4 linked regions of the Homo sapiens genome follow. The protein of the gene in region 4 purifies or fractionates together with the protein of the main gene of each other region. This does not show direct contact. Each region holds a gene or a part of one and is shown on either strand. Other genes may lie near its edges.

Evidence for each region. The genes of interacting proteins can lie anywhere in the genome.
Region 1: the proteins of SLC10A4 (region 4) and LMAN2 purify together in Homo sapiens (affinity purification with mass spectrometry; one large-scale study listed by BioGRID and IntAct). This does not show direct contact.
Region 2: the proteins of SLC10A4 (region 4) and PCBD2 purify together in Homo sapiens (affinity purification with mass spectrometry; one large-scale study listed by BioGRID and IntAct). This does not show direct contact.
Region 3: the proteins of SLC10A4 (region 4) and SLC2A6 purify together in Homo sapiens (affinity purification with mass spectrometry; one large-scale study listed by BioGRID and IntAct). This does not show direct contact.

Annotation. Positions count from the first base shown.
Region 1 is NC_000005.10:177,334,669-177,338,168, forward strand, and holds part of LMAN2 (vesicular integral-membrane protein VIP36 precursor), read right to left. Parts: intron 3,118-3,500; coding exon 3,038-3,117; intron 2,857-3,037; coding exon 2,695-2,856; intron 2,583-2,694; coding exon 2,468-2,582; intron 1-2,467. UniProt on the Homo sapiens protein: Plays a role as an intracellular lectin in the early secretory pathway. Interacts with N-acetyl-D-galactosamine and high-mannose type glycans and may also bind to O-linked glycans.
Region 2 is NC_000005.10:134,960,138-134,963,144, reverse strand, and holds the end of PCBD2 (pterin-4-alpha-carbinolamine dehydratase 2), read right to left. Parts: intron 2,560-3,007; coding exon 2,464-2,559; 3' UTR 501-2,463; downstream 1-500.
Region 3 is NC_000009.12:133,470,594-133,473,346, reverse strand, and holds the end of SLC2A6 (solute carrier family 2, facilitated glucose transporter member 6), read left to right. Parts: intron 1-96; coding exon 97-242; intron 243-1,170; coding exon 1,171-1,326; 3' UTR 1,327-2,253; downstream 2,254-2,753. UniProt on the Homo sapiens protein: Probable sugar transporter that acts as a regulator of glycolysis in macrophages. Does not transport glucose.
Region 4 is NC_000004.12:48,486,343-48,490,026, reverse strand, and holds the end of SLC10A4 (sodium/bile acid cotransporter 4), read right to left. Parts: intron 1,601-3,684; coding exon 1,088-1,600; 3' UTR 501-1,087; downstream 1-500. UniProt on the Homo sapiens protein: Transporter for bile acids.

The sequences.
Region 1 (3,500 bases), on a different chromosome or scaffold from region 4:
CTCTTTGAGGCTCATGTTCCGCACATGTAGAGGAGTGATGATCTCCATCTGTGTGGTTGCCATGGCAAGTACATGAGAAGGGTCTACACCACACAGAAGATGGCCTGCCTGCAGAATAAGTGCTCAAAAACAGACCCGGGAAAGACCAACAGTCGCTGTGTGACTGGCTGAGAAGGCTGAGGTCCCAAGGGCAGGAGCCACCAGACATTCTTGCCACAGAGACCCACATACAGGCTGCAGGGGAACAACTCGGCAACCAGCTAAGGGCCTGAGCCTAACGCAGGTCAGCAGCTGTGCCTGAGGAGACTGGGGAAAGGCTCTGTCCAATGGCATGCACAGGGAAGAGCCCTGGCTTGACGCTGATGGATCACCCAATTGTAGAGATGAGGAGGCTGAGGCTCAAAGCCGACACGTGGGTCCTGGTCAGCCTGGGACTGGAATCTGAGGAAAGGCCTTGTTGAAGGGAGCAGGAATCTCTGGAGCCAAGGGGGGACCTAATGAGCAAGAGCTCGGCCAGGCACACAGTGTGAGAGCCGAGCATGCACAGCCCTTGGAGACGGCGAGCGGCCCTGCAGGACAAGGACCGGCCCTGGAGTCAGGCCCCAGTTCCCATCTGGGCTCTGCTGCTTCCTGCTCGTATCTTAGGAAAAATCCTTTCAGTTTTCAAACTCCCAATGGTTGAGTAAAAAGGGAACGAGATGGCCATCTGCCTAAAAATACATCAGGTGACATCACCCGTAAGGTGCCTGGCACTGATGACCCCTGACCAGTGGTCAGACACGGCTCCCCTCATGGTGCCTCCTCCACTCTGTGCTGGGCTCTCCCAACAGCTGTGAGAGCTGCCACCGGCCACAGCACTGGTGCTGCTCTGCTCCTATCAAGAACCCTCCAAAGACAAGGGCTGAAACAGTGTGATGAAGTTCCAGGCAACCCGGGGCAGGAGGGAAACCAGCCAGGCGCGAGCTGGAAATGATGAAAGCTGGTTGGCAGGAAGGGTGCTTACCAGACCTCTCTCCTCTGCTGGGTATGTGACTGAAAAACCCCCAAACAATGGATGTTCTGGGGTCTGAGCGGACCCAAGCACTTCCATGCTGAGAGAGGAGGCTCCTGGGCAGTGGGCAGACTACAGGCCCTGGAATGGGTCATCCTGAGGATAAACCGCCCATGTCAGGTCCCCCGTGTCACGTGCCAGTTCTGGTCAGGAGCTGGCCCTGGGCCTGGCACCTGCTCAGGGCCCCAAAGAGAAACCGAGAACCACAGCCAAGGGCCACCACGGCCTGGTGACCAGTGAGGCCTGAGCAGGTTAGAGGCACCCCAGTGCTCGCTGAGCACCTGCCCTGGGCCAAACAGCCATTTATAGAGCTTACAATTGAGCAGGAGGGCCAGAGACAATAAAATTAATTACTCGGTAGACTCAAAGATGGTAAATATTATGAAGAAAAATAAAGCCAGCAAAGATGCTGGGGAGTGGGCTGGGGACACAGGAGGGGGCACGACATTCCACGAGGGCATCAGGGAAGGCCGCACTGAGGAGGTAACATCTGAGCAAGGCCCTAGGAGACAAGGGTGAAACAGCCGGGGCAGGAGGGCACAGGCGCATCCAGGCAGCAGCTGGAAGCCACAGTAGGCAGGGGGAGCAGTGAGCAGGGAGCCAGAGGTGGCAGGGCTGGCACAGAGGCCCTGGCGCCCCCTGCAGAGCTCTGCGCAGAGCAGCAGGAGGCCTCACACGGGCTGAAGGCGATTACTGAAGGCGATTACACGGCTGCTGTGCTCACGAGAGACTGTTGGGGGCTGGTGAAGGAGGGGACCACTTGGGAGACTCCTGTGAGAGACACTGGTGGCCTGAAGCCGCCAGGTAGTCAGGGAGGGGAGGGAAGTGGTGAGACGTGCTGTGAAAATAAAGCCACAGGGACTGTTGATGGACCAGAGGTGCCATGTGAGAGAAAGAAGGGTCCGGAAAGACAGCAAGCAAATAGAGGGGCACAGGTGCCACTGACATCCCGATGGGCAAGATGTGGCCTCAGCTGTGGGCACAAGGGCTGAGCAGGTCCAGAGCGGTCTGGGCTGGAGATAAATCTGGGAATCTACATTGCCCAAATCTAACTGACCCGCTGCCTCCTGTTGATGGGGAAGGTTGCCAAGGGACCGTTCAAGGCCTGAGGCCCGGACAGGCCATTTACAGAAGAAAGGAGGAGGAGGAACACAGCCAGGTGAGCTCAGAAACCACAGGAACTGAGGCCCGGACAGGCCATTTACAGAAGAAAGGAGGAGGAGGAACACAGCCAGGTGAGCCCAGAAACCACAGGAACTGAGGCCCGGACAGGCCATTTACAGAAGAAAGGAGGAGGAGGAACACAGCCAGGTGAGCTCAGAAACCACATGAAGGCAGGCAATCAACTGCATGGAAAGCTCCCAGTCCCTCAGGGTGAGCTGGGCTGGGAACCAACGCCTGGCCCGGCCCACTCACCAGACAGGTCGCCGGTGCCGGCGGAGGCCCCGAAGTAGTAGCCGGTGGGCAGGCGCACTCCCGTGATGTCAATGCAGTTCTTCCACTCGTTCTTGTCCTCCAGGTCGGTCATCACCTGCAGGGCCCAGCACGCTAAGCACCTCGCAGGACAGCAGCCTGCCCTCCTGAGCCTCTGTGGGACCAGCACAGGGCCACCAGCTGCCACCCCCACCGCCTAGCCTGCTCACCGTCAGACGGCCCCGGGAGTAGCGCACAGCCAGGAAGGTGTCGTGATCGCGGTTGCGGAAGTCAGCCGTGCAGCCCGCCAGCTCGGTCCAGCGCCCATCCTTGCTGTGGTCGTAGGACAGGGAGCCATTGTTCACCATCACCGAGATGTACGGGAACACGCGCTGGGACCAAGACATCGGTTACTCCACAAGCAGCCCAGCCTGTGGGGCGAGCAGGGGCACCCACCACCCCAATCCCTGGAGGCTCCTCTTGTGCTGGGACCATGGAAGTCCCAGGGCCCCCTCCTCTAGCCGACTGCCCAGTCCTTCCTTTCCTGCTCAGCAGGATAGAGCAGGGGCCTACCTCAGTGGTCTCATCATTGGGGTAGGTGTCCAGGAAGATGGCTAAGCCGTGGAAGTTATCTTTGCTTCCAAACACAGGCCCTAGAATTATAAGCAGATGCTCTCAGAATGGGAGAAACAGGAGCCGTCCCATGGGTACCTAAAAGGCAAGCAATGCCAACATGGGTGGGGGCAAGAGAGCCCAACCCACTGGCCATTCACCGAGAGAGAAGGGATCGTGAAAGGAGAAAGCTGAGGCTTTCTCCTCAGAAGTGGGGGGTCTAGGCATATGACACAGAGGACTCAAGTTTGAAGGCTGAACTGTGAGGGGACTGAGGCAGATGTCAGGTGTCAAGGGGGTACCTGGCCTACAAAAAACAGTGAGCCACAGGACAGCCCTACCCAGGAGGCTCTACCCTCTATACTAGGGGCAGCAAACATTCTGTGAAGAGCCACCAAGGAAACACCTCAGGGTCTGTGGGCCA
Region 2 (3,007 bases), on a different chromosome or scaffold from region 4:
TCTCTGGCCCCTAAAGAGAGGTGGGTTTACAAAGATGATCCATGTTAAATTCCACTACCATGATGCTTCAAGGGACTAACAAATGCTTCATGGATGGATATACCTGCATCATAATCTCGTTAGTAGTACATTCCTGAATTCCTTCAAAAAACACTCTTATTACAATTTTTAAATAATAGATTACTTGATATTCCTTTTTACATCTGTCAGTGACACATGGAGTAAGTAGAGCTCACTACTGATTAACACCCTTCTAGCTTCTAGCTTCAGTGGCCGTAGACCCTCAGTTCAGGAGTCAAAACATGCAAATGATGGGGGGAAAATGACCCTTAGTTCCTCCTTAACTCAGTAAGTCAAATAATGACTTGGTGAGTTGGCTGCTGTAACAGTAAATCTTATATTGCCACACATTCCTGGAAGCCACAGACAAGACACTTGTCCTCTCCTTCAACTCTCTGTTGAAAGAGAAAAGTAAAGAAAACACACCAAGATAGCTCATCCAATTTTTGTGACTTGTTTAATCTAATTAATTATATAAGTAGTAACGGCAGCTAAAATCCAAATCAACTTTAGCTTCATAAGAATTGTTATAGGCCAGGCGCAGTGGCTCACGCCTGTAATCCCAGCACTTTGGGGGGTCAAGGCAGGAAGATCATTTGAGCCCAGGCATTCAAGACCAGCCTGGGCAACATAGTGAGACTCCATCTTGTATAATTATTAAAAATAAATAAATAAAAATTTTAAAATAATTGTTATGACACAGTGGCTCACACCTGTAATCCCAACATTTTGAGAGGCCAAGGCAGGAGGATTACTCGAGCCCAGAAGTTCTAGACCAGCCATGGCAACATAGTAAGACCCTGTCTCCACAAAAAAGTTTTAAAAATAAGCCAGGTGTGGTGATGCATGCCTGTAACCGCTGCTACTCAGGAGGCTGAGGTGAGAGGATCACTTGAGCCTGAGAAGTCAAGACTACAGTGAGCCATGGTCGCACCACTACACTACTGCCTGGGCAACAGAATGAGACCCCGTGTCAAACACACACACACACACACACACACACACACACACAAACTGTTATACTGGCTGGGGGCAATGGCTCACACCTGTAATCCTTGGACTTTGGGAGGCAGAGGTGGGAGGCTTGCTTGAGCCCAAGAGTTCAAGGCCAGCCTGGGCAAGATGGGAGACCCCATCTCTACAAAAAATTTAAAAATTAGTCAGGCGTGGTGGCACTTGCCTATAGTCCCAGCTACTCTGGAGGCTGAGGAGGGAGAACTGCTTGAGCCCAGGAGGTTAAGGCTGCAATAAACCGTGATCCTGCCACTGCACTCCAGCCTGGGCAGCAGAGCGAGACCCCGTCTCAAACAAAACAAAACAAAAGAAGAATTGTTATTTAAAGTTAAAACTCACTATCTGTCGAGTTCCTAATTCTTTTTCCACCTTACAACTATTCTCCAAAACAATGCATTTGTAGTCACCAGAATTGCTTGAATTTCTGGGTTATAAAATGTGTGAATACTCCCCATCCCAATTTCTTGAATTTAAGAATGCCACTTCTGGCCAAGCGCGGTGGCTCATGCCTGTGATCCCAACACTTTCGGAGGTGGAGGCAGGTGGATCACGAGGTCAGTAGATCGAGACCATCCTGGCCAACATAATGAAACCCCATCTCTACTAAAAATACAAAAATTAGCTAGGCGCAGTGGCACGTGCCTATAGTCCCAGCTACTCGGGAGGCTGTGGCAGGAGAATCATTTGAACCTGGGAGGCAGAGGTTGCAGTGAGCCGAGATCCCGCCACTGCACTCCAGCCTGGTGACAGAGCAAGACTCCGTCTCAAAAAAAAAAAAAAGCCACTTCTCTTTCTGAATATTATTAATATAAGTAACTGGGTTGGTTTATCTTAGGTATATGATTAGATAGCATGAAAAATACCTCAGGTTCCAGTTTAAATCATTGCGTATTTAAGCACTGATTTTACCAAATGTAATATATAAAGGCAAACAATTTACACAACTTAAATTGTTATTTTTCTTTTTTCTTTGCTTCTAGATATGATGCCTTAAGAACAATTCAACAGCCAGGCATGGTGGCTCATGCCTGTAATCCCAGCACTTTGGGAGGCTGAGGCAGGCGGATCACGAGGTCAGGAGTTCGAGACCAGCCTGACCAACGTGGTAAAACCCTGTCTATACTAAAAATACAAAAATTAGCCAGGCGTGGTGACACGTGCTTGTAATCCCAGCTACTCAGGAGGCTGAGGCAGGAGAATCACCTGAACCTGGGAGGCGGAGGTTACAGTGAGCCGAGATCATACCACTGCACTCTGGCCTGGGCGACAGAGCAACACTCTGTCTTAAAAAAAAGAGAAAAAGAACAACTCTATTTGTTCACATAAATTTCCTTCAACATACATTGCAGCTAAGATGTGTACAAGATTTTACATGTATTTTGGAAGAAATCACACAGAAGCAGCTGCTTTTTCAATAAACTTGGCCAGCTTCACATCTTTTTTGGTCAGTTCACCACAGTCATGTGAGGTGAGAGTTATCTGGACCTAAGAAAAAGAAAAGCAGTTTTTAAAACTCTGAGCAGCAAATCATGGTTATTTTCCTTTGGCAGTTCAGAAATCAGTCTATTATTCAACATTCATATTTGAGAATTAGGGGGATTAAATGATTTAGAAAATACTACATTATGAATAAGCAAAACATTTCCAAAACCCAGCGAACTCCAGGGGCATAGTCTACATTAGGCCTGGCTCAACAGCCACCTTGAAATAAAAAGTTCTCTTCCATGAAGAGGCAATGCAGCTGCCAGAATCTCAAATCTTGTTTCTTTAAATAAAAAGAGAGACTGAGGTTCCAATTGAACTCTCGTTACTTTAATTACATCAACTATTTTCAGGCCACTGAGAAAAACCAAGCTATCAAATGTAATATCTTAGCAGCAACGTTTAAAAAGCACATTTTGGCTGGGCATGGTGGCTCACACCTGTAATCTCA
Region 3 (2,753 bases), on a different chromosome or scaffold from region 4:
TGGCTGGAGAGGGGGGTCTCCAGCAGCTCAGCGGAGACAGACACAGCCGCCTCCAGTCACCCCACAGGGCCTGAACCTGCCTCCTCCTCCGAGCAGGCTACGCCGTGGGCTGGGGTCCCATCACCTGGCTGCTCATGTCTGAGGTCCTGCCCCTGCGTGCCCGTGGCGTGGCCTCAGGGCTCTGCGTGCTGGCCAGCTGGCTCACCGCCTTCGTCCTCACCAAGTCCTTCCTGCCAGTGGTGGTGAGTGTTCAGCCCCAGGCCCCAGGCCCCTAGGCCCTCTCTGACTGGCCAGGACCCTTCTCAGTGCCAGGGGCTGTGCCAAGGCCTGCTGTCAGGACCCTAACTCTCAGTGACCCTAGGAGATGAGCACACACCCCCTGAACTCAGAGACCCCAGAGTGGTCACGTGATAGCCTAGCAAACGCTCTTCATTATAAGAAACAGGAACGGGCGTAGGCAACTGTTCTGGGAAGTCAGGTTACCTCCTGGGCCAGGGCAGGACATGGCCCAGGACCCTGCCAGGGGCCCCGGAAGCCACCTCCCCACCGTGCCTCATCTCCCGCCCTCCTGGGCGCTGGGTCTCAGCAGCAGCCACACTCCCCCCTCAACCCCACCCACTCCCCCTGCCTCCTGGTTCAAAACTACGGGCCCTGTGACCAGCCAGAATCTGTGAGGCCCAGAGTAAGTTCCCATGAGGGAGAAGCTGGCTAGGGCAGCCTAGGCCAGCGCCTAAGCTGTCCCTGCAGTGGTCAGGGCAGGGGGGTTGGGGGAGGGCAGGCAACCCAGAGTGAGTCCATCAGCCTAGAGGGTCCAAGAAGAACCTGCGTGCCCACCAGGCTGCAGGGCGGGCCTCCTGCAGGCCGCGGCATGGAACAGCTGGGATGCCAGCGCTGGGTAGGGGGTGTGGAGGGGGTACCTGAGCTGACGCCAGAGGGCCCAGCCCCTGAGGAAGGCCGAGGGGCAGACGGGATGCAGACTTCAAGGGCTACTTCGGATTTGTCCTGGGGACAGTGGGGGAGCCCTGGTGTGGGGGGGCGGTCTCTGAACACAGGAAGGACCAGATGAAGGCCCCACAGGGCTGGTCACTACCAGCAGCGCCCACGAGCTCCTCTGGGGCAGGAGGACCCTGGAGCTTCTCCCTGTGACCCGGCCCCGCTCTTCACCCGCAGAGCACCTTCGGCCTCCAGGTGCCTTTCTTCTTCTTCGCGGCCATCTGCTTGGTGAGCCTGGTGTTCACAGGCTGCTGTGTGCCCGAGACCAAGGGACGGTCCCTGGAGCAGATCGAGTCCTTCTTCCGCACGGGGAGAAGGTCCTTCTTGCGCTAGGTCAAGGTCCCCGCCTGGAGGGGGCCAAACCCCCAGTGGCTGGGCCTCTGTGTTGGCTACAAACCTGCACCCTGGGACCAAGAGGCAGCAGTCATCCCTGCCACCAGCCAGAGCACAGGAAGAGCAGTGTGATGGGGCCTCAGCAGCGGGTGCCCCTGGCTCGGGACAGGTAGCACTGCTGTCCAGCCACAGCCCCAGCCCAGGCAGCCCACAGTGCTGCACGTAGCCATGGGCCGCAGGAGTGCATACAACCCTGCATCCAGGGACACGGCCCTGCTGGGTGACCTCAGGCCTAGTCCCTTTCCCTTGCGTGAAGGACACGCCCCACAGAAGGCTACGGGGAGGACTGAGAGGACAGGGCTGGAGGCAGCCAAGTAACGTAGTCATATCATCGCGCTCTGATCTGGTGGCATCTGGCTGTGCAAGGAAGACCCGGCTTTGCCCTCACAAGTCTTATGGGCACCACAGGGAACATCCTGGACTTAAAAAGCCAGGGCAGGCCGGGCACAGTGGCTCACGCCTGTAATCCCAGCACTTTGGGAGGCCAAAGCAGGTGGATTACCCAAGGCCAGGAGTTCAAGACCAGCCTGGCCAACATGGTGAAACCCCGTCTCTACTAAAAAATACAAAAAAGCTGGGTGTGGTGGCACACACCCGTAGTTCCAGCTACTTGGGAGGCTGAGGCAGCATTGCTTGAACCCGGGAGGTGGAGGCTGCAATGAGCTGAGATCATGCCATTGCACTCCAGCCTGGGCAACGAGAGTGAAACTCCGTCCCCACCCCCTGCCAAAAAAAAAAAAAAAAAAGCCAGGGCAAAGGACCTGGCGTGGCCACTTCCTCCTGCCCCAGCCCAACCTCTGGGAACAGGCAGCTCCTATCTGCAAACTGTGTTCACCCTTTTGTAAAAATAAAGGAACTGGACCTGTAGTCCTAGCGAGGAAAGAGTGGGGTCTACTCCAGGAGCCCCCACAGCAGCCAGGCTAGACCCGAACCAGCCAAGGTTGCCAGGGCCACTGACTGCTGATCCATAGCAAAAGCAGGGCAGGGAAAAGGCTGCAGTGAGGGGAAGCCCACTGCGAGGCCCACCCTTAACAGGCTCTTTCTAGCTGTGTGACCTTGGGCAGGTCACTTTCCTTGTCTGGGATGCTGGGGGCAGCCTCGGGACAGGACCTGTAGTTATTTCCTGGGCCAGCGGCTCCTGCCTGGCTTCCACACTCACACACAGGCACCAAGGCAGAAGGGAGCAGAGGGCAGGCACGCGAGCCACGGCCACGCTTTATTGCTTAAGACGCACACAGAACACAGAGGAACAAACAAGGAGGAAAGGGCGCCACACACAGCCCAGACCAGGCAGGAGCGGCCCAGCCGCCGGAAGAGACGTTCCTTGCAAGGCAGGGCCCCTGCTGGACAGCACGCCCCCTGGGCGA
Region 4 (3,684 bases):
AACCAAGGCGCCCGAGGTGAGGAGGATTTCAATGAGAGAAACTCATCACCGGCATCAGCTGAGCCGGCTTCTCCCGGTGCCCTGATTGTTCCAGGTGCCTGCGCATCCCCCCCACCCCCGCTCCCTCACCGGGAAGCCGAGGCCAGGCCGGGTGCCTCTGGCTAAGTGAGCGAAAGTGCCAAGGTTTGGGAACTGTTCTGGGTCTATTACCCGTTAACTCAGATGATAAGTTTATTCTCAGAGCTGCTCTAAGAGGCTACCCACTGAGCCCCCTCGGCGAGTGCATGGAGAACCACCCAGGGATCTTCATCTAGGCGAATTGTTTTCTCCCCTGGAGCGTGTCCCTTCCCCCAGTCCCAGTGGTGACCGGGAGGTACCGTTTTGTTCTGCTCCAGAGCGGTTCTGAAAAATTTCCCAACCAAATCATTCCTACAAAAGATAAATTGATTTGGGGTGTGTTTACATAAATGCAGAAGACCAGTCGAAAAGAACATGGCTTGTCCACTAGAAAAATGTTGATTATTCATTAATAAGTAGATACCAGATCAAGTAATCAAATACATTAATGTAACTTTTCTCTGATACTGGTTTGACAAATACTATATTTCCTTATTTAACTGACCTGTTTTGGAATTCTTCTGAATACAGGTCAAAATTCAACATTGTGAGGAATTTTAAGTAGAGCAAGCACACTTTTTTTTTTACAACAATTACATTAAACTCAATTATGCTTTACAAAGATAGCTTGTTTTTCCTCATAGTGCGCCAAAATTCTACATTTCCAAGACCCTGTTTTCTAATAGATTCTGTATTTGCAACAGTCATAGAAATTGGTGATGGTAAAAACTAAAAACCACATTTAATTCAGGCTTCACGTTAGCCATTCCAGGTGCAAATTATATTACAGCATTGATTTGTAATTTGTGACAACGTTTGGTTAATACACCAGTGAACCTTAAAAAGATCAGAATTGTTACATGTATGATGTGAACCAGTGTTATCTTTTATGTTAACCATGTGCACTACCACAGGCTATAAATATGAAGCAATATTTCAGCAAGATAGAAGCTCCTGTGTATCTCCACATTTAGAGAGAAGTCTGAGCGGTTTCCATCATTATTATATTTTCTGCTTTCACTGTGCCATAGGAAGTGTCTGCCATTTCCTCTTCTTTTAGTTTTTTATAAGAAATATCTGTATCTTCATCTTCATCTAGAGGATCTCGCTTGTGCAACATTTCACTTCCATACATTTTATAGATTAAAACAAAAATCCCCGCTTCTGCAGACTGGAAAAGTGCATACAGCAAAGGAAACATGTACATGCTTCCTATGAATTGCGGTGGAAAGGCCAGTTTTAGAATGGCTGTACAGAGCTGCACATTCTGACTACCTGTTTCCAGACATACAGTCCTCTTGCAGTTGGGTGGAAGATGGAAGAGAGTAGCTAAACCATAACCTGAAGCGTAGCCTGCCAAAGGCATAAAAATTGCTATCACATAAACAGCTGCAGGGATACTTGCCAGCAGTTCAGGTCCTAACATAGTGCCGGTCATTATGAAAAGGACCACCAGAGTCACTAGCAGAGACCACAGGGAAACCTAGTAATAGAAAATTACAATGAGATGGTTGAAGATGAACTCAGGCGAGAGAATCCTAAGCTCACGGAAGAAAACACCCATCTAGTATGCTCTCCAACACAAAATGGAGACCTTTGACAGAATATTTCTGAAGATGGGCAGGCCACCTCTTCAGGAAGCATCCAGAGCCACATTGGGCAGCTCTGATTGTTTGGAGGCCTGTCCTTATGTCCAGGGACAATTTGCCTTCTATAACCTCTAGCCATTGAGTTGGATATAGGCTCTCAGGAGCGACAGAGACCAGCTCTTCAAAAACAAAAAACAAACAAAAAAACCCAGCTTTTCTGGCCAGGCGCGGTGGCTCACACCTGTAATCCCAGCACTTTGGGAGGCTAAGGTGGGTGGATCATGAGGTCAGGAGTTGAAGACCAGGCTGGCCAAGATGGTGAAACACTGTCTCTACTAAAAATACAAAAATTAGCCAGGTGTGATGGTGAATGCCTGTAATCCCAGCTACTCGGGATGCTGAGGCAGAGAATTGCTTGAACCTGGGAGGTGGAGGTTGCAGTGAGCAGAGATCGCGCCACTGCACTCCAGCCTGGGTGACAGAGCAACACTCCATTTCACCAAAAAAAAAAAAAAAAAAAAAAAAAAAAAAAGCTCTTCAAAAAAAAATAGCCTTCAAAAGCTTTTTTCCTGAAAAACAGCTCTTCAAAAGCTTAAAAACTGGTTATCAGGGGAAGGCTACTCTTCTTCAGGCAGATCATCCCCAAACTTAAACCTCCATCACATAACTTTGTTTTGGTATCCTGACTGTTCTGAGAATGTGTTTCATATGTGAATGTGCCTCTTAAAAACAGGGCATTTAGAACTGAACCTAATACCCCAGGTATGGTCTGATCATCAGAGCAGACAAGTGGATGTTTACTTTCCCTGAACTGAACCCCGTGTTTTCCATAAGAAATTAGTTCTCATTTTACATGAGTTAAAACTTGTGAAACTTGATTAAAATGTCTGAAGCTCAGTGTGTGATCTTTTTAACCCTCAAAATATACTGCAGAGGATTGCTTGCAATATTGAAACAATTACCTACTCTTAGATTATGTAAGAGAGAAAAATGTAAATAAATATGTGAAGAATTCTTTGCAATTTGGCAACTTTCCCCTTTTTTATTTGTTCATGAGAAACCTCCCATCTATAAGTCTGTAATGATGCTTACGTATTATTACAATAGATGGATTTCGGATACAGTACAACTGACTTCTGTATAAAACGTGTCATCTTGATGTTCTGACTGGTACATTTCACTCATTCAAATAAAACAGTCTGTATGAATTGTAAGGCGGAAATCTAAAAATTCCTCTCCTCGTTCTCCTTCATATTGGTAGTTAACTTATTTTTTTTTAATGAGGAGTGGGCAGGGAAAGGAAACTAGAGCCAGAGAGAACAGCTTAAATGTTGCTTCTGGTTCCCTGGATAGCTGGGATATCCCTTTTGCAGTCTTCGGGAATGGCGTAACTCTACACTCTTAAAAAATTATTTAAAATTTATCTGAGCTGGTCACAAATTCTACCCTAGAGGATGCTGCAATAATTATTATATAAGGTACAGATACTACAGATGCATAATTGGCAGAAACCAGGCTATTACATGTAAAAGCATACCATTTCAAAGTATGTCACATTGAAAGCGCTGACAAACAGTCTGATTTCTTCATTTTGAAATATTGGCTCCAAAGTCCCTTAGAACTATTTTAAATCATTTGGGCAAGCATTGACATTGAATGCTCATTTTGAAGTGTTTGCAAAGGTGTAACAATTATATAAACCGTTTCTTAATAGTGTGTTAATTAAAGAATAGGGCTAGGTTAACCTTAAATTCAAAGGTAGCTAATCTTATGTCTATTATATTTAAATATTAAATATATTAATTTATTAATATATTTATTTTAAATATATTTCTTGTTTTGGGTGTGTAAATAGGTCATTTGATTGACTTTCTCTTAGACTTCCTAAGGTTTTATAGTAAATGCCATCACATTAATAGCATTAGCTTAATGATTAAGATTAACAAGTTCTTAATGCATCTCAAGAGTATCTATGAGT